3 linked regions of the Homo sapiens genome follow. The protein of the gene in region 1 purifies or fractionates together with the protein of each later gene. This does not show direct contact. Each region holds a gene or a part of one and is shown on either strand. Other genes may lie near its edges.

Region 1 (4,231 bases):
TTTGAGCCCATTCTTCTGGGTGTGCTTTTTGGGACCATCACTGAGAGTCAGGAGTTTTACTGCCTGTAGCAATGGCCAGAGCCTCTGGCCCCTCACCCACCATGGACCAGCCCATTGGCCGAGCTCCTGGGGAGCTCCTGGGACCCTTGGCTATGAAAATGAGCCCTGGCTCCCACCTGTTTCTGGAAGACTGCTCCCGGCCCGCCTGCCCAGACTGATGAGCACATCTCTCTGCCCTCTCCCTGTGTTCTGGGCTGGGGCCACCTTTGTGCAGCTTCGAGGACAGGAAAGGCCCCAATCTTGCCCACTGGCCGCTGAGCGCCCCCGAGCCCTGACTCCTGGACTCCGGAGGACTGAGCCCCCACCGGAACTGGGCTGGCGCTTGGATCTGGGGTGGGAGTAACAGGGCAGAAATGATTAAAATGTTTGAGCACAACTTGCCGTGCATGTGTGAAGTGAAATGAAGAACATCCGCTCTTGGCCTCCCCTTCCCCTCCAAAGTCCAGGGCCACCAGAACTGACTTTATTAAAAAAATGACAAAACAGGTCTATACATATTTACAGGCTGGGAGCCAGGAGGCTCAGGTCCGACAGCAGGGGCCAGGCTGCTCACTTCTTGGAGAGCTTGACTTGCTTGTGCTTGGGGGGTGCCCACTTGAGGCAGACGGAGTCCACTGTGGGGAGAAGGGGCGGGAGGCAGGGCTGGGCCTGGGCCAGGCCAGCTCACACCTGGCTGCCCTCCTCTGGGCTCAGGCCAGTTTCACCTCCTCCAGGTGAGAACAAAAGGGCAGGCTGTGCTGGGGAGGGGTAGGGAAGCCCAGGAATGAGAGGCCTGCCCCGGGCTCCATCCTGGGAGCTGGTCTGACTGGTTTGGGATCATGTGACAGCAATAAGGAGGCCTTGACTCCTACCAGTCCATATACTGACACTCCCCCACCGCCCCCGACACACAGCAGCCCCCCACCCACCTGTGATGGGTGGTTTCTTATACTGGGCACTTTTGAGGTGCTCCTCCACCAGCTTGGGTGTGACACAGATCACGTGCTGGCCCTTCCAGTACTTGACCATATTGAGGGATTGCAGGGTACTGATGATGTCATTTTGGGTGATACTGGTCATCTGGCTGCAAAAAGGGATGAGAGCAAATGCCAGACCTGGTGCCCTTGTGGGATCTGGCCAGGATGGTGACAGGGTATGAGGAAGCAGGATCGTGGCCCATCTCAGGGCAAGTCCTGCCCCCAGGGCCCGGGAGGCCCCCTCACCTGAGGTCCTTGATGGACAGTGTGCCCCGGAAGTCCCGCAGGATCTCTAGCAGCACCCAGGACCAGTAGCTGCGGTAGCTGAGCTTGCCCAGGTCAGACAGTGGCTTCTCCGGGGAGCCGACTGTGCTCTCCAGCTTGGAGAGCTCATAACCTGGCAGCAGTAGAAAGAGGAACTTAGGATCCAGCCTGCCCTGGCACCCCTGCCCCACAGGTCTCCCCCTCCCAGACAGGCCAGGAACCACTCACTGAAAGCGATGAGGAACTTCCCGTAGCCGCGGCGTTGGTAGGGGGGCAAGGTCAGGATGCAGGCCACATTGTTTCCATCCGGGGACTCCTTCTCCTGCAGGAGGCAGGTGCTCAGGGCCGCTGGGGAGGCTCTGCCCCACTCTCTGTTCATGCCCACCTTCGCCCTCCCCACCCTCCCCACCCCGAGTTTCCAGACCCAGCACCTTGGAGAAGTAGCCAACAATGTGGGCCCCCTGCCGGTCCACCTCAGTCAGGATGTAAAAGACGAACGGCTCCACGTCAAAGTACAGTGTCTTATGGTCCAGGAAAAGCTTGGCCAGCAGACACAGGTTCTGACAGTAAATCTAGGGTTGAGGAGGGGGGAGACAGGCTCAGGGGGCAGGCACAGGCCCCACCCAGCTGGTTCCAGCGGCCGGCACCAGCCCACGCGAAGTGGGCGCCTCGCCAGGCCAGAAGGATTTCACACTGGAAGGAGTCTTCGGTCAGCCTCTGACGAACAGGGAACTGGAAATGAGAGAGCAACAGCACTTCGGAGGTGCCAGTGGAGCTGGATGAAGCCCGGCCACCCCTTCTGAGTGCCAAATACGAGCTGGGTGCCTTCCATGCAGGATCTGCTTCAGTCTTCACAGACATTAACTCTGTTTCAGCTCGTGAAACTGAGGCTCCGAGGCAGGAATTTAGACCGTCCTGTTCATGGCTGTGTCCCCAGCGCCTAGCACGAGTCTAAGTATGAAGCTGGGTGCCTGGTAAACGTCTGCTGAATGGAGGAACCTCGAGCCCTGTCTGTCCACTTGGCTGCACTCCAGGAGGGGGACAATGGGACCGAGTTTGGCTTCACGGCACACACTAAGGGGCTCCCTGGTTTATGACACCACAGCCACTCTCTCATCCAACCCGGCAGCTGTGCGAGCCCAGCACTGCCAGGCCCATCTTACTCAGGAGGAAGCTGAAGCTCCCAGAGTGGAAGTGCTTGCCCAGAGCCTCAAAGCTGGCAGAGCGCAGTTGGAAAGCACCCCCACATCTCCAGCGGGGGCCCTTCTGCTATTCCACACAGCCATGCTCAGGAAGGCAGAGCAGGGGCAAGGGCTGGGCTCAGCCTGCGTATTCTCCGAGTCCAAGGCTAATCAAGCCCCAAGAGGTCACCGATAATAACAAGGCCCGTGTTTATTAAGCACATACTAGTGCTAAGCACTGCACTAAACACTTGACATTTGCTGTCTCATTTATTCCACTAACAACACAACTAGGTAAATATTAAATATTATGACTCCCGTCTTATGGACAAGGAAACAGGAACAAACCATGTTAAGTAACTTGTCTGTGGTCAGTGAGGAAGTGACAAGGCAACATGAGCCACCCTGAAGCCTGCCCTCTCTGTCCTGTGCTGTATGGCCCATCTGCGGGAAACCAGTACACTTGGCCAGACCCTCCCAGACTGATAAGGCAAAGGCCAAGTTCTCTACAACAGCTAGGCAGGTCCCAAAGGCCCCAACCTGCCCTGCTGAAGTCATTCGGGGCCAGGAACAAGGAACTCAAACCTTGAAAGCCACAGAGCTCTCTCAGGAGGAAATTTCACACAAAGCAGTCCCCTCCCAGGCAAAAACAAACACCTTTCTTTCCAACGGAAGGAGAGAGCACTTCTAAAAGCAGCCTCAGGCAAGAAAATCTCCTCTGGGTTCCAGAACAACCCAAGTTTGAACCTAACCCCACCAGCAGAAGAGTCTTGGGGCCACCACAAGGCCCTGTGTTTCCTATGCACCAACTACAGGCCTAGTGCCAGGCTAGGAGGCCCTCAGAGGCCTTCTTTTTTTTTTTTGAGACAGATTCTCAATCTGACGACCAGGCTGGAGTACAGTGGCACAATCTCAGCTCACTGCAACCTCTGCCTCCCAGGTTCAAGCAATTCTTGTGCCTCAGCCTCCCGAGTAGCTGGGATTACAGGTGCGCACCACCACGCCAGCTAATTTTTTGTATTTTTAGTCGAGGAGTTTCGTCATGTTACCCAGGCTGCTCTCAAACTCCTGAGCTCAGGCAATCTGCCCACCTCAGCCTCCAAAAGTGCTAGGATTACAGGTGTGAGCTGCAGTGCCCGGCCCCTCAGAGGCATTCTGCCCATAGAGGCTCAGCTAAGGCTGCCCCCTCCCCTTTGGTGGTGATGAGGATCATCTGGGAGGTGCCCAGGGCCTCCCCGGCCTCTCCCAACCCCTGGCCACCCACTCACCTTATGGTCTTTGCCATCAACTTCGTACACGGAGATGTTGCTCTTGCGGTAGATCTCTTTCCCGGGGGGCTGCCGCCACTGGCACTGACCCTGGTCGGGGACAAGAGAACAGGTTCGCTGCCCATATGTTCTCTGCTAGGAGGCACCCAACCCACCACTGCATGCTTTGGAGCAAGTCTCTGCCTCTCTGTTTCCCCCCTCAACACTTCACCTACATCGAGTAATCCTCCCAGCAGCCTTAGGAAAGTGATCCTGCTTTTACAGACCAAGGCCCAGGCACAGAGATCCAAACATCACACAGCACGGTGGGGTTTTGAGTCTCTGTGGGCCTGGCTCTGGAGGGACCCGTCCATGACAATGGCTTCCCTAAACCACACCTATTCGCTTCAGATTCCACACTTCGGGAAGCAGCCCACTGTGTCAGTGATGAGAGCGCCCCTTCCTGACAGCCCCCAATTTCATCCACACTTAAGGTCCCACTGCCAGGGGCTATGTGTGCTTC
Region 2 (7,035 bases), on another chromosome or scaffold:
TGTTGACAAGGGGCAATAGATAACTGTTGGCCCAAGGTGCCTGTGAGAACCTGAACCAAGAGTATTTTTCAAAAGACCCCTTTTCAAAAAACTTGATTTACTCTATCCTCCCAGATACTAACAGAATTAAGATTTTCTGAGGCTGTATCCTTATCTAAAATTGGCTGGCTCTGTGACAAAGCATCCTGATAGTAAAATAAAAACAAAGGCATCAATTTTTACAAAGATACCAATTACTTGTTTGGTAATGTAGGCAGCAATAGCATTCTTAACAGTGGCTAGACATGTGGGCATCCACCCCAGCAGAAGAACATACGAGAGATTATTGCAAGTTCATTATCTCTATTGGAAAACAATTAAGAAAAGTTGTATATAATAATTGGACTATCTGCAAATCTCATCAATCCTTCAGCATCAAATGCTAAACTCAACAGTGTGAATTTATCTTGCTCCCCCAAAAGTAAAAACCTAACCATGTTGAACAATTTCACAGTTAGCAACTAACACCCTCATCATTCTAAACTCCCCAAGAGTTTCAATTTGACAAAAATAACTCAGAAAATGTCTCTGACGAACTGTAAAGAATGTTTTCAATTATCAGTTTTAAAATTCAACAGTAAGAAAATTTACTTTTATAATATGGACACCAACAAAACATACATGTGTGTATGAGTATGTGCATATATGTACATATGTATCAGAGAAATAAAAACATAAAAACCTGGCACTTTGGCTCTAGATGTAAAAGGACTTGGGGAACAGACAGAAGCATAACAAATACTGCAAAATAGTCAAGAGAGGGTGAATAACAAAAAGGTTAAGGAGAAAAGCATAGAGACCACCGAGAATTTCAATGCACGTGGGACAGGCACACAAGGTTGTAATCAAAAGGTGTTCAGTCAGAACATGACCTAAATTGCACTACTTTCCTCAAAAACTAAAAATTAAGAGGTCACAGAAACAAATGAGAATTTCACCTCCCTCTATTCAAATACTGTGTTCAACCCTCTAATAAATCTTCAGTAATTAACAATTAAAACTATGCATTTCCTTGCTATAATCAATTAAAGTTGACAGCTACTGTACTATTAAGCTCATCATATCCAGATAATCCTTACTCTTCCACAAATTCAAATTATAGCTAAACTCCTCTCTACCTTTTACTTTCCCAGAAAACGATCTTACTTATTTTACTTTTCCAATAGTTACTGCTAATATTTAAAAAGGGAAAGAATATTCGTGTGCCTTCCTCTAAGGTAGTCAGCCACATTGCCACAAATATGCTAGAAATTCTGAAAAGAGGAAGTTAATAATCTGGTTAGAAGCAAAATCATCGAAGTCAAGGACTTCCATGCACAATCACTACATTGATATTTTATGATATATAATCTGTTAATGTAAGACTCTTAGTTATTACACAGTTACTTATATTGGCCTATATTTCAATATTGTTACAAATATTAGAATACTTTTAAAGAAAAATGTAAATATTTTCACATGTACATTTGAAAATAATTTTCCCAATGTATATACAACCTTATAACTTTAACATATTTTTCATATATTCAGTACGGTAACAAATTCCAGATCGTTAAAGAACCGAATAAGACCTTTATCAAAAAAGTATCTCAATGGGTCAATGACAATTTGGAAATCTTGTGGAAAAGTGGAAAAGAAAAATTAATTATCTTAAGGAAAGACCAAGAGTCAAAAGACAATAGATCTGATTTGAGAAACTACAGGAAATGTTTCAAAATCTACAAATATTCACATTTGGGTATTGTTTTATTTTTTTAAACATGATAAAGAATTATCATGTACAAAGTAACTTCAACCTTTATATAAAGATAAAAATTAATAAAAATAAGTATATGTCTCTTATGTTACTTCAATCATTTTATTTCAATACATGCCATCACCAGAAAAGAATAAGTTTCATTTTATGCTTCATCCAAAAAATGGATAAAATGGTTTCAGGGAAGACGCCTGTAAACACAATGATCACCAACACCCTTGGTAACGAATCAACAAACTGCCTTATGTTTTTCTCCAACTCACAACAAACTAAATTCAGACTTCCTTCAAACATCTAGTTCCAACAGTAATTTACCAGAAGTGCATTTGTAACTAGTATTGGCCTTTTTATTTTATGTGTATTCTAGATCAGGTTATAATTCTTAAAAACTTCTAAATAAAACAATGCACCCACATAAGGGAAACATGAATAGATATTATTAGATTTAAAATATCAGCTTGGTAAAATACACATCCAAATGCTTTCGAACTACAATAAATATCACAAAATCATGCAAAAAATGTGTTATTAAGGATGGCTGATTTTACATATTGCACTCCTCAAATAACTTTACAGCAAATTTAATTCAATTTGGAGGATTCTGCCCCAAAATATGGAATTATATTTAAGATACAGGCATATAGCTCAGTGTTTCTTAAATATTAAATTCTATCAAAATCCTTAAACCAAAGTACTGATCCCATTAAGTATTTCCCAGCTTCAAAAGTAAGAATTCCTGTAACTATACTTGGCTCTAATAATTTATATTTAGTAGAAATAAGGATATATAAAAAAGAAGCAGGGAGAAGGAAATAGATCAAGTGACAAGGTTAAGCAGCATGTATGTCCAGGGAATATGATTGTAAAATGATCACACAAAAGACCTTTAAAACGGAGATGAAACTCTCCTATAAATGTTAAAGTATTTATGAAAAGGAATTATATAGGAATCAAAATAATGTAGTTAAACCTCAAAATGTTTATACCTAATAACTGCAAGCCTAGCTACTTATCTACTTATAGGAGCCTTTATTTTTTTTCTTTTACCTGCTGCTGCTGGAGCTCCTCTTCCATCAGCTATTGCTTTGGAAGAAGGATTTGGAAGCATCTGTGTATCCTCTTTTTCTGCCCTGGGACATTCATTACGGTAAGAGGAATCTGAGGCTACCGGTGCTGTAACTTCTGAACCACGACTTAAGTCAAGAGGGAGACAGGGTCCCAGCTTCTCAAGTGGCAAATGTGCAACATCAGGCACTACACAAAATAAAGAGTGTAATGTAATATTAACACAGATAAAATGGCTCAGTTACTATCACTGTGAATTAAAGTGTTACATAATTTAAACAGTGCCTGGCACAAAGAAGGCACTCAATAAATATTTGTAGAATAAGTGAAGTGCTTATAACTCCAGAAGATATAAGAGCAGAAATATCTTAATATTTTAATAATCTTTATCTCTTAGTTTTTTCTTTATCTTCTTTTATGTTTGGTTCTATAGGAAATCAATATACATTACCCTCTGGTACTGAAGATTCTTGCTGATTTTGAGAACTGATGGAGAATACTTTCCCATCAGTGGCTGGAGAGGGAGAAGAAACCTTTTCTACAGAATCATCAGGCATGGGTAAGGTGGCTAAACGCTGAGATCTTCTTCTCCGCTCACTATGCTTGAAAGGTCTAGGGGGATTCACAGGCTGTGGAGGACCTAGAAAAAGATCTTCAATGTTCACGAAGCAGATACATACCAGGAGCATCTTACAATATTTAAGGAGATAAATGGGAAAAAATGATTTATATTCTTCCCTCTGATGTTGTTATAAGATATCCACAAGGAATGGCATGTTCCAAAGGTAATCAAAGGCAAAAATTGTGCCCTCATTCAAAATGAGTCAATCAAAAATTGTAAAATCTACACTCTACTAGAACTAAAAGAAAATAAAATGGAACATTAATTTCAAGTAGCTCCCCCAAGTGACAGACTACAGTTAATTTCTCTAATTGCAGATCGTTGTGTAAATTGCCATTTTTCCTTCGGGAAAATAGTCTCTTTACAGCAAAAGATAAGGAAAAATATATATATATGTATTCCTTTTGCTACATTGCAAATCTAGAAACTCTAAGGGAAAAAAAGGCAGGGACAAAGATGATACAACATTATAGAGTTAGTGATTTACTTTACACTAATGTAAATAATTTTATCCCATCATCATCCCCCCCAAATGGAGTTTTATAAACATGTCTGGGCCTGATTCATTAAAAAAAAAAAATGAACAAAAACAACTTTGTATACTTATTGTGAGCAAATAATGAGGATATTTAAGATTATGACATTGTGTACTTGTGTTTTTTAACAACTTGGTAAGTAATTTAGGCATCTTCTAGCAATATAATATAAATATTTGGAAATGTCTCTCACACTTTTAGATATCTTCTTTCTACATGGCATACAAACACATTTGACTAGAATAGGCAAGATTATATATGCCAATATATTCATGTTAATTTAGAAAGAGGAAATAAGAACAGTCTAAAGACATTGATGTTTGGGTATTTAAGAGTAATTTTACAATCAAAACGAAAAAGACATGCTGATAACTTAAAAATATGAAAGAATAAAATTTAATTGCTATAATATTGTGGTTATAATACCAAGATATAATTTCCAAAATAAAATGTTTATTAATGTCATATGACATTCCAGTGACTACTACTGACACTATTTCATGATAAATGCCATAATGAAATGAAGCTTATTAGGAAAACAATTGAATTATGTTCCCATTCTTTCCACCTATTAAAAAGAAAAAGCAAAACCTGATCAAAATGAAAAAATGATTCAGTAGAAAATATGGCAACTGAAGGAAAATAGGTTAATAAGTTTGATAAAAGTCTTCTGAATGCCAACATCTTTGATTATTCTGGAAGACACAATATGGAATAAGGAAACATGTCATATTCACTCAACTGATCATGTATTTCATTTTTTGCATAAAGAGCAAAAAAAACCATCATTTACCAACTGACTTTTCAAATAACTGTTATTCATGTCTCCAACTTAGGATACTAAACTAATATGAGAAACTCAGGGTCAACACAAATCTTGTATTATTTATATATACAGATATATAGGGAGATAGATAGATATACCCATGTGAAAGGTGTTTTCGAAAAAGACTGCGTTAACTCTTGAAAAATTAGAAGTACTGAAACAGTAAAATCTTTAAAAATACAATCATGGGGGCATTTTTTTTTCATTAAAAAGATTAAACTGAAGTCTAGACTATAAATATTATAATAAGAATGAATAAAATGTATTGCAGAGGAAAGTTATAGACAAGTGGGGACAAAAAATCTACAGGAATAGTCTTAAGTAAAAATAGCTATCCTGGGTCTTTTTATAACTTTTTTTTTTTGTAATGAATCAGGCCTCTCAGTATGCTTGGATTATGAGTTGAGGAGAGTCAAACTACAGTGGAATCTGTGTTATTAAATGGAAAGGATTCTCAACCAGCAGTAGTCTCTAAGCAATAAATCAGTAAGAAATGTCTATGGTTTTTGCCCCTGAAATAGTTTCAAGCCTTCCCTATCATATCCACTTGAGTTTTTAAAAAGCAACTTCATAAAAATACAATATAACTACAATCAAACTGTTTTTAATGTATCTTATAGGATAAATAACTATTTTTTAAAAATCTGTGCTCACTAGTTTTATTTATCACTGAAGAAGAAAGCTGAGATACAAGCGTCAAATCCTCGACTTGTATTAATTCTGGGGAAAGTGGTGATTTAGGGGGTTTTATACACCCAGAAGAATCTCCAGATTCATGTTTGCATTTCTTGCTGCGAGCCTTCCCTGAAGACAAAGTTGAGGATAACAGTGCAGGTTTCTGAGTGTTGGCAGAACTGCTAATGTCAGCTTCATTTTTTTTCTGACTTTGAGGTTTAGGTGAAATCGCCTGAATAAATAATAAAAAATTGATATTTTTATTTTGGCTTCTTCATTTTTGTTCTTGTATTCTATTTTGACTGTTAAGCAACTTTAGTATCCAGAAACATTGTTAAGCAACATATAACATTTCTATTACAAATGAAAAACCAAAAAGAACCCCACAAATTATTAACTAAAAGTTGAATAGGCTGTCTTTAAAGGGATGCTGTCAACTTTCAGTCTAAATTCATTTTTTAAAATATATTATTCATAATATTTTCGGAACATAAAATGTTATCTTACTGGACAAATATTTTCAGTATTAAATAGAAATATACCCCTTTAGGAACCATAATTGCCAATGACAATAATTCGAAAAATAAACAGCATTTTCATGTTTTAAAGGATTAGAGGAATACATTTAAGCTTTTGATTTTAGATGTTTTCTTATAAAATCTTTTCTTTTAAGTTGAATGTAAAGGTCTAAGTAGACAGATTCCCTTTAAAGAAAGATCTGAACAGGAAAAACAATGACCAAATTAACAAAACATTATCTTTAACTCATTTTAGTGCTGAAAGCTAGAGTTTCATAAGCACAATGCATCATGAAATCAGAGCCACCAGCAATATAGAGTTAAAAGACTAAAAAACAATACAAAACAAGCAACAACAACAAAAAAAAAACCAAAGAGATAAAGTGTAAGTTAAAAACATTGGATTTAAAAACAAAATACGTCGCATTCTTAGATGAGAGTTTTTACCTTCTTCCTGCCAACTGATACTTTTAAAAAAAAATTAGAACTTTGTCAGTTCTTTCATAAAAGATCATTTTTATTCATTTGGCTGTAAAATTTCCTACATATGTTAAAATATGTGTGAATGTGTCCATTTTTCAAAACAAGAGAAAATAACTACATTGGATGAATTTGCAATCTATGGTTCTGCAATACTTCTATCTCTTTCTGATATACTTATCTGAGAGCAAAATATATAATATGCATTTTTTGAAAATCTATTCTACCATAGGCCTTTATAAAGAATCAGACTGCTAGCACTATAAACAACATGCTTGTCCCCAAGAAATCTTTTTACTTCCATATCTTGTGGAGAATAACTATCAGGTCTGCTGTCTGCAGTTCTCTGGAATATGAACGATCATTTTCTGGGGACTAAATAAATAAATAATTCTGTTCCCACTGAGATACAAGTCAAATTTTGCTGGGGAAGAAAAGTGCATATTTGGTATTAAGTAGGGCACCTTCAATGCTCTATAGACAGCATGTTGGACATACCACATAAAAGGCCTGGTGTC
Region 3 (7,035 bases), on another chromosome or scaffold:
ATATATGTTCGCTATTAGTATTCCCCGTTTGCCCATCAGCTCTGCTAAGCCAGGGTTCTAAAGCTGCTACTCTCCCCCATGACACCCTAGATCCCCATTTCAAACCCAGCTCGCCAATCAGCCTTCCAAACTCCTTAGATTCTCAACTAATCACCCTCTGCAGAAGCACAGCAGACCACCAGCTCTGTCTTCTTCAGAAGTGTAAAGACACACTGTCCACACGGGACTTGGCTCTGGCCACCACTCATGAAGATCCATGGCAGAGCATCCGCGCAGACCCTTGGGGCCTGGCCTCATTTCTCAACTCCTCCCATCCACTCACACTTCTACTCCTTGTTAGTACTACTCTTATAAGCAAACTCACAAGAGGTCTGGGTTTCGGTTCTGATCATTTGGCTCCACTAAAAGAAACACAGGGAAAGTAAACAGATGAGCCTCCTATCCCCTCCACGTCTGTCTGCCAGACAGCCAGCTCTGGCTGCTGCCTCTTCCCAGGCACCCCTATTCCTGAAAAGCTCAGGTGACATGCTCCTGGACACATCGTTAAACACCAATGCCCAAGAGGCCTTACCTCAAGGCCACCCAACTGGATCAATGTGGGGGAAGGGGGACAGAACCACTGTTTCTTCTTTCCCTACCCAATGAACTCTCCCTTTTCTATAGCTCCTTTCATAGCACTCGCAGCTCACCAAACTCTTACTTTCGACTATAGGAATACTTCCCAGCTTCATCTGAAACCTGTATGCAGAGAACCCTGATAAACTTCACTGAAAGTCTCAGTGTGAGAATCTTAACGCTTCAAGGGTCAAACAAAGAAAGGGCATGATGCCAGGTGAGTTACCCTAGAATCTGATTAATAAAATCAATCACCCAATACATATGATTGGAGAGCCCCGACTGGAGGAGTGGCTGGCAAGGTAGAAAAAAGTTTAGGCCAATATACATGTTCATAAAGCCTAGCCTCCCCAGAACAGCAAGACAAAGCTATAACTAGTGATCACAAAGCCCCACTAACTCAGAGGCCTTGGCATTCATTTCAATAATTAATTTTGAATTTTGCCTGCACAGAAATGTGAGAAAGGGCGCCTCTCACATCCCCCTGAAAAAAGCCATAGATATCAATACTGTGCAACTGCCATGTGACATGAACTACAGAAGACAGACCCAAGAGGAGCCACTGGCCAAGTGCCTATACCTTGAGCTTGTTTGTGGGTCAGCACAGCTTCTGTCCGCTGCACATGTCTCTTCAGCAGCTGAGAACTTCCAATCTGACTGGACTTCTGGGCAGAGGTCACTGTGGTCACTTTGGTCTTGGGACTGGAGGTGGGGCTGCTGGACACACTGGAGAGATCCTGAGTAAGGTGAGAAGGTCAAGAGATGAGACAATGTTACTAGGATCTGACCATGAGTCAGCATGTCCCTCTGGAATTCCCCTTGTAGGAACTCACAGGCCCATGGCACTAATAAGACAGAGGCATCCCCAGGAAATTAAGGAACCAACTCTGTGGTGCTGATTCCCCAGCAAAAGCGCTCCCTCCCTGCTCACACTACCTCTGAGCCTGAGGGTGAGGCGGGCAGCTTGGCAGCTGGGGAGGCAGGTCGACTGCCCCGCTCAGGGACTTCAAAGGCCAAGTCTCTGCGGGCCACATCGCGGGGCTTCTTCTTCTTCTCAGCATCCTGATCCCGAGGTTCAGAGCCCATGTGACCCTCAGCACGAGTGAGCACTCCAGTCAGAAAGTCCACAATCTCATCCTAGTGTAGAGAGGAGCCAACCAAGGCCTTTTAGTCCTCATCTGGAGAATGGGAACCTCTCATATACTTTCCAACTAAAACAGATTCTCCCTCAGCTCTGGCATCCGCATGTGCCAGTCCTTCCCCACTCAAACAAGGTCTGGCGCAAATCCCAGGCTTCTGAGCAACTGTGGTTCAAGAAGACCAGCAAGTGCCTCTGTCAGGGGGAGCTCTGGGGTGGTCACATTCCACCACTTTTCCAACACTCTCCCCCGTGATGCTTTGCTTACATTAATTCACCACTCTCATTTTTCTTTTCTTTGCTTATGACTGAGACCTACCAGAGGCCCCAGTGGAGGCCTTAGAGCCAAAGAGACCACTACCAATAAGACCAAACCTAAAAGGCTACAGAAAGGCAAGCCTAGCTGAGAAAAGCACACAAAACAACTGTTTACCTGAATACATCTGTCCACCATGCTCTGAGTCAACCCTTCTGATTTCTTCTTTGCTTTGCTTATTCTAAGAAACAAAAAGGATGACATGTTTACTTCTTACACATTGCACGGCATCCTATGAAAATAAGAACGTATTTCTTTTCTGGGTTGTTTATTTTCTAGCCCCAGAAGGAGGGCCATGTTAGCCTTAGGCAGGTAATGCAACCTCTCCGAACCTGTTTCCGTGTCTGCAAAATGGGGAATCATAACATCCCATTCATGGAGTTGTGGGGATTAAACAAAATAACATATGTAAAGAAACCAAGCACAGTGCCCAGGACAGTCCGCTCCAGAATTCCTATACCTATAGCTTAATAGATCAACTCTATCCAGAACTCAGGAGGCGGAGGTTGCAGTGAGCTGAGATTGCACCACTGCAGTCCAGCATAGGCGACAGAGCCAGGCGCCACCTCAAAAAAAAAAAAAAAAAAAAAAAAAAAAAAGCTCAAGGTCGTGAAAGACAAAGATGGAGGAACTCTATCAAATTAAAGGAGACTGAGGAGACATGGCAACTAAATCCAAGTGTGATCCTGGGCTGGATGCTGGACCAGAAAAATGACATTAGGGAAACAACTGATGAAACATGAGTCTGTAAATTACAGTATCATGTAGATGTTAATTTCTTGATTTTGAGAATTACACTTTGGCTATGTAAGATGTTTAACATTTAGAAAATCAGGTGAAGGGTATATAGGAATTGTTTTGTACTAGTGTTATAACTTTTTATAAATCTGAAATTTCAAATATTAAAAAAGGTTTTTTTAATGCTGTCTTTTTTTAATTTTTTTTTTTTTTTGAGACAGAGTCTTGCTCTGTCACCCAGGCTGGAGTGCAGTGGCGGGATCTCGGCTCACTGCAAGCTCCGCCTTCTGGGTTCACACCATTCTCCTGCCTCAGCCTCCCGAGTAGCTGGGACTACAGGCGCCCGACACCAGGCCTGGCTAATTTTTTGTATTTTTAGTAGAGACGGGGTTTCACCGTGTTAGCCAGGATGGTCTCAATCTCCTGACCTCGTGATCCGCCTGCCTCAGCCTCCCAAAGTCCTGGGATTACAGGCGTGAGCCACCGCGCCCGGCTAATGCTGTCTTTTAACTGAACCAGACTGGTCTGTAGTTACATTGCCAGCTTCCAGGCTTATCTCTAACACTGTAACACAGCTCTCTTGCAGCTCTGGGAGAATCCACCCACCTGAGATTGTCATCAGCTCCCCCAACCACCACCAAGCTGTTCTCAGCTCGAATCTTCTCCCGGAAGTCCTCCATGGCTTCAGGGTGACATTGAAGGGAATTCTGACCAATGACAAAGAGGACTGGAGTCTTCATATCCAAGAGGGGATCATCTACATCCTAAAACAGGTATAGGTTTTAGAATCGGCTTCTTCATATTCACAAAGCACTGACCCAGAAACTCCACTAAGGAGGATCAGCCATGCAACTGCAGTCAGCCTCAGCATCAGCTTGGACAAGGCATGCACACTCGCGCTCCCACTGCCAATGACCCAGCACTCAGCTTTACCACATTCTTACCCCTCTGGGGCCATCCACAGTAAGCAGAGGAAACCCAAGGCAGACAACTGCAGTGACATACTCCATTACTGACACCTGTAAATAACAGAACAGTTTGTCTAAACGTCAACTGAGTTCATGGCACCTCAGCCTACCCAGAATCCAGGAGTGGTCCAGACCCACCAGACAGTCTCACCTCTTCCTCTCCTGTCCTAATATCCGGGTGCATCTTCTGCCACAATGGCAGCAGTAAGAGCACAAGACACAAGGTATGTCATTCCATAAGCAGCCACTACCTAGAGAACTGGGGCCCTAAGAGGACCCCAGCAGGTGGCTGAACCATAGGATAGAAGGTTCAGTATTCCTACCCTGTCAACCCCCTCAACTAGAGCCCTCCTGCTCCATTTTTCTCCACAAATAGTAAATATAGTCAAGAGAACACAATGTTGCCATTAACCCTTAAGTGAAAAAAAATTCTCTCTATTGAACTTAATGGATAGCTACCAGACAGCCTAGATTTCTTGGAGCAAACTGCTAAGGCCTAACACCCTGGGAGCAGGGACTATGGGGACCTTCTTCCTCTCATAGCTATCACACTTGATTGGACTGCATGAAGCAAAATTAAGGGTTTGGACATGAGGGACACTTACACAAACTGACAGACATACAAATATATGTAAAATACGAAAAGATTCCTTGATGTCTTGGAAAAAGACTGAAATGAACACAGCATCAAATTCCAGAGCTATTAATATTTGCCAGCTACAATTACTGTTGTTTTTTAGGTGGGAGAACAGTATGGTACTTATGTTTAGAGAAAAAAAGGGATCTTTTTTTTTTTTCCACAGATATATACCCATATGTGTGTGTGTGTGTGTGTGTGTGTGTGTGTGTGTATGTGAAAATGCTATTATATTTGGGATTTTCTTCAAAACAATCTAGGGGAGAAAGAAAATGAGCAGGGTGAGATGAAACAAGCCCAGCCAAGAGTTGATCACTGGTAAAGCTGGGTGAGGATCCGGGGGTTTATTATACTACACCTGCTTTTGTTTCTGCTTAAAGTTTTCCAAAATAAATTAAAAATTGTTTTAATAAAATTTGTCTTCTACAGTTTAAAATGTAATTATATAGGTAAAGTATCTAGCGCAGAGCCTGACACACAGTAAAGGACTCAATGGTAGCTATGATTAGTGGTATTCCATCCCAGGACAACCTCCAAATAAGATAGAAATTACTTACATGACAGGCCACCAAAGCTCCTGTGTTCCAGCCAATCAAGATAATGGGTTTGTGTGGGAAATGGCTGTGAATCTTCATGGGAAGAGAAAGAAGACAGTAAGACAGGAGGCCAAAGATAGGTGCAGAACAACCCCAGAATGCTGGGTATGCCACAATGTACTGAAATACGGGCATTCTCACCTCCAGCACTTTGCTTCTCACTGCCCCAATCATATGCTCGAGACACTGTAGAACTCCTACCCCACTGCCATTGTTCAGCAGATGGGTGGCTACAGGGATGACCTGAAGGAAAGAAGTAGCCCCCACACCAGCAGAGGTAAGTTTCAAATCTTTCAATTCTGTTTAACCTAACCTAAACCCAAAACCTTGGAATTCCACATGAAAGAAGGATTAGAGGAGGCTCCACATGAAAGAAGGGTTAGAGGAGGCTCCACATTCAAGTTACCCATTTTGACCTCCTCCCACATATTCTTCTCCTCAATCCTCCAAGACTATATTCCCTGCCAGGAAGGAGTTCCTCTTGCCCCCACACATACCTTGCCCAAGCAGGACAGCTGAGATTGCCAGAAGCGGTGGCGGCGTGAAGTGGGAAACACAGAGCTGGAGGGACCAGAGGAGGCGATGAGAATCAGCGGAGAGCCAGGGAGTTTGCTCTAAAGAGGAAGAATCCCACCCAAAAACCAGTGAGTGAGAAGTGTCCTTTCATGAAATTCCAAGTATCCCAATACCTTTCTCATCCCAACCAATGCTCCTTTGCTTGTGAAATTATGTTAAGCACTATGTAAAATAAATTATTAATAATAGTTAAAGAAGCTGGCCAGTCATGCTGGCTCACACCTGCAATCCCAGCACTTTGGGAGGCCAAGGCAAGTGGATCACCTGAGATTAGGAGTTTGAGACCAGCCTGGCCAACATGGTGAAATCCTGTCACTACTGAAAATTAGCTGGGCATGGTGGTGCATGCCTGTAATCTCAGCTCCTCAGGAGTCTGAGGCAGGAGAATTGCCTGAACCCAGGAGGTGGAGGTTGCAGTAAGCTGAGATCGTGCCACTGCACTCTAGCCTGGGTAACAGAGCAAGATTCTGTCTCAAAAAATAATAATAATAATAAATAGTTAAAGAAGCCATTTATCCTCCTGCCAAGGTTCTAAGGCTTGAGTCTAAAATTTTTATGTACCATTGTTAAGTCCTGAGCCATCCAACTTACTGGTTTGTTATGAGAAAGCACACCCACAGCAGGGTCCCAGGGCCTCTTCAGTAGGAGAGACAAGGCCTCAGCTCCTGCAGCCCCAGTCTTTGTGTTGGATGACACAAGCATCCGGTCAATCAAGGTTGGGATCTACAAAGAAGAAAGAGCAAAGATGACTCCAGTGTAAAGCAGGAGACCTTCCACCACCAGCAATCAAGCAGAAGAACAGAGCCCCACTATAAGCCATAGACAGACTTCAACTAAGCCTCTGAAAACCTCCTAAGGATCAAGAATATATATAAATAAGCGGGTGAAAAGTATGCTCCCACCATGAAAAGTGAATGTGTACAATCCTTTGGAAAGCAGTCTGGATATGCAGCAAGGGACTTAAATGTATTCCCATCCCTTTTCCAAATGTTTCTACTTCTGAGAACCTTTCCAAAGAAAACGTATCAGAAACAAAAACACACACAAAAGGATGGGGACAATTATGCACAGAGACAAATTAACTATGAATAATAATAAAGTAAAAACAATTTAATATATATGTGCATATGTAAGGGAGTAGTTTAGTCAACTATCTACCTAATTGGATATTAAAGATTATTTTCGAATATTTACAAGAATTTATTTATTTATTGAGACAAAGTCTCGCTCTGTCGCCCAGGCTAGAGTGCAGTGGCCTGATCTTGGCTCACTGCCACCTCTGCCTCCCGGGTTCAAGCGATTTCTTGTTTCTCAGCCTCCCAAGTAGCTGAGATTACAGGCGTGCACCACCATACCCAGCTAATTTTTTGTATTTCTAGTAGAGATGGAGTTTCACCATATTGGTCAGGATGGTCTTGAACTCCTGACCTCAAATGATCCACCCGCCTCAG

What was found. Proteins that work in one complex are often made in the same cells at the same time.
Region 2: the proteins of KAT8 (region 1) and PHF20L1 purify together in Homo sapiens (affinity purification with mass spectrometry; 3 studies listed by BioGRID and IntAct, with this or other methods). This does not show direct contact.
Region 3: the proteins of KAT8 (region 1) and KANSL3 purify together in Homo sapiens (affinity purification with mass spectrometry; 2 studies listed by BioGRID and IntAct, with this or other methods). This does not show direct contact.

Annotation. Positions count from the first base shown.
Region 1 is NC_000016.10:31,127,638-31,131,868, reverse strand, and holds the end of KAT8 (histone acetyltransferase KAT8), read right to left. Parts: intron 3,820-4,231; coding exon 3,730-3,819; intron 1,853-3,729; coding exon 1,712-1,852; intron 1,603-1,711; coding exon 1,509-1,602; intron 1,414-1,508; coding exon 1,263-1,413; intron 1,124-1,262; coding exon 969-1,123; coding exon of another isoform or gene 877-968; exon of another isoform or gene 675-876; coding exon 610-674; 3' UTR 510-609; downstream 1-509.
Region 2 is NC_000008.11:132,813,353-132,820,387, reverse strand, and holds part of PHF20L1 (PHD finger protein 20-like protein 1), read right to left. Parts: intron 5,752-7,035; coding exon 5,499-5,751; intron 3,501-5,498; coding exon 3,312-3,500; intron 3,050-3,311; coding exon 2,843-3,049; intron 1-2,842.
Region 3 is NC_000002.12:96,607,313-96,614,347, forward strand, and holds part of KANSL3 (KAT8 regulatory NSL complex subunit 3), read right to left. Parts: intron 6,308-7,035; coding exon 6,176-6,307; intron 5,623-6,175; coding exon 5,506-5,622; intron 5,252-5,505; coding exon 5,150-5,251; intron 5,042-5,149; coding exon 4,970-5,041; intron 3,827-4,969; coding exon 3,752-3,826; intron 3,572-3,751; coding exon 3,414-3,571; intron 2,251-3,413; coding exon 2,187-2,250; intron 1,753-2,186; coding exon 1,552-1,752; intron 1,353-1,551; coding exon 1,196-1,352; intron 1-1,195. UniProt on the Homo sapiens protein: Non-catalytic component of the NSL histone acetyltransferase complex, a multiprotein complex that mediates histone H4 acetylation at 'Lys-5'- and 'Lys-8' (H4K5ac and H4K8ac) at transcription start sites and promotes transcription initiation.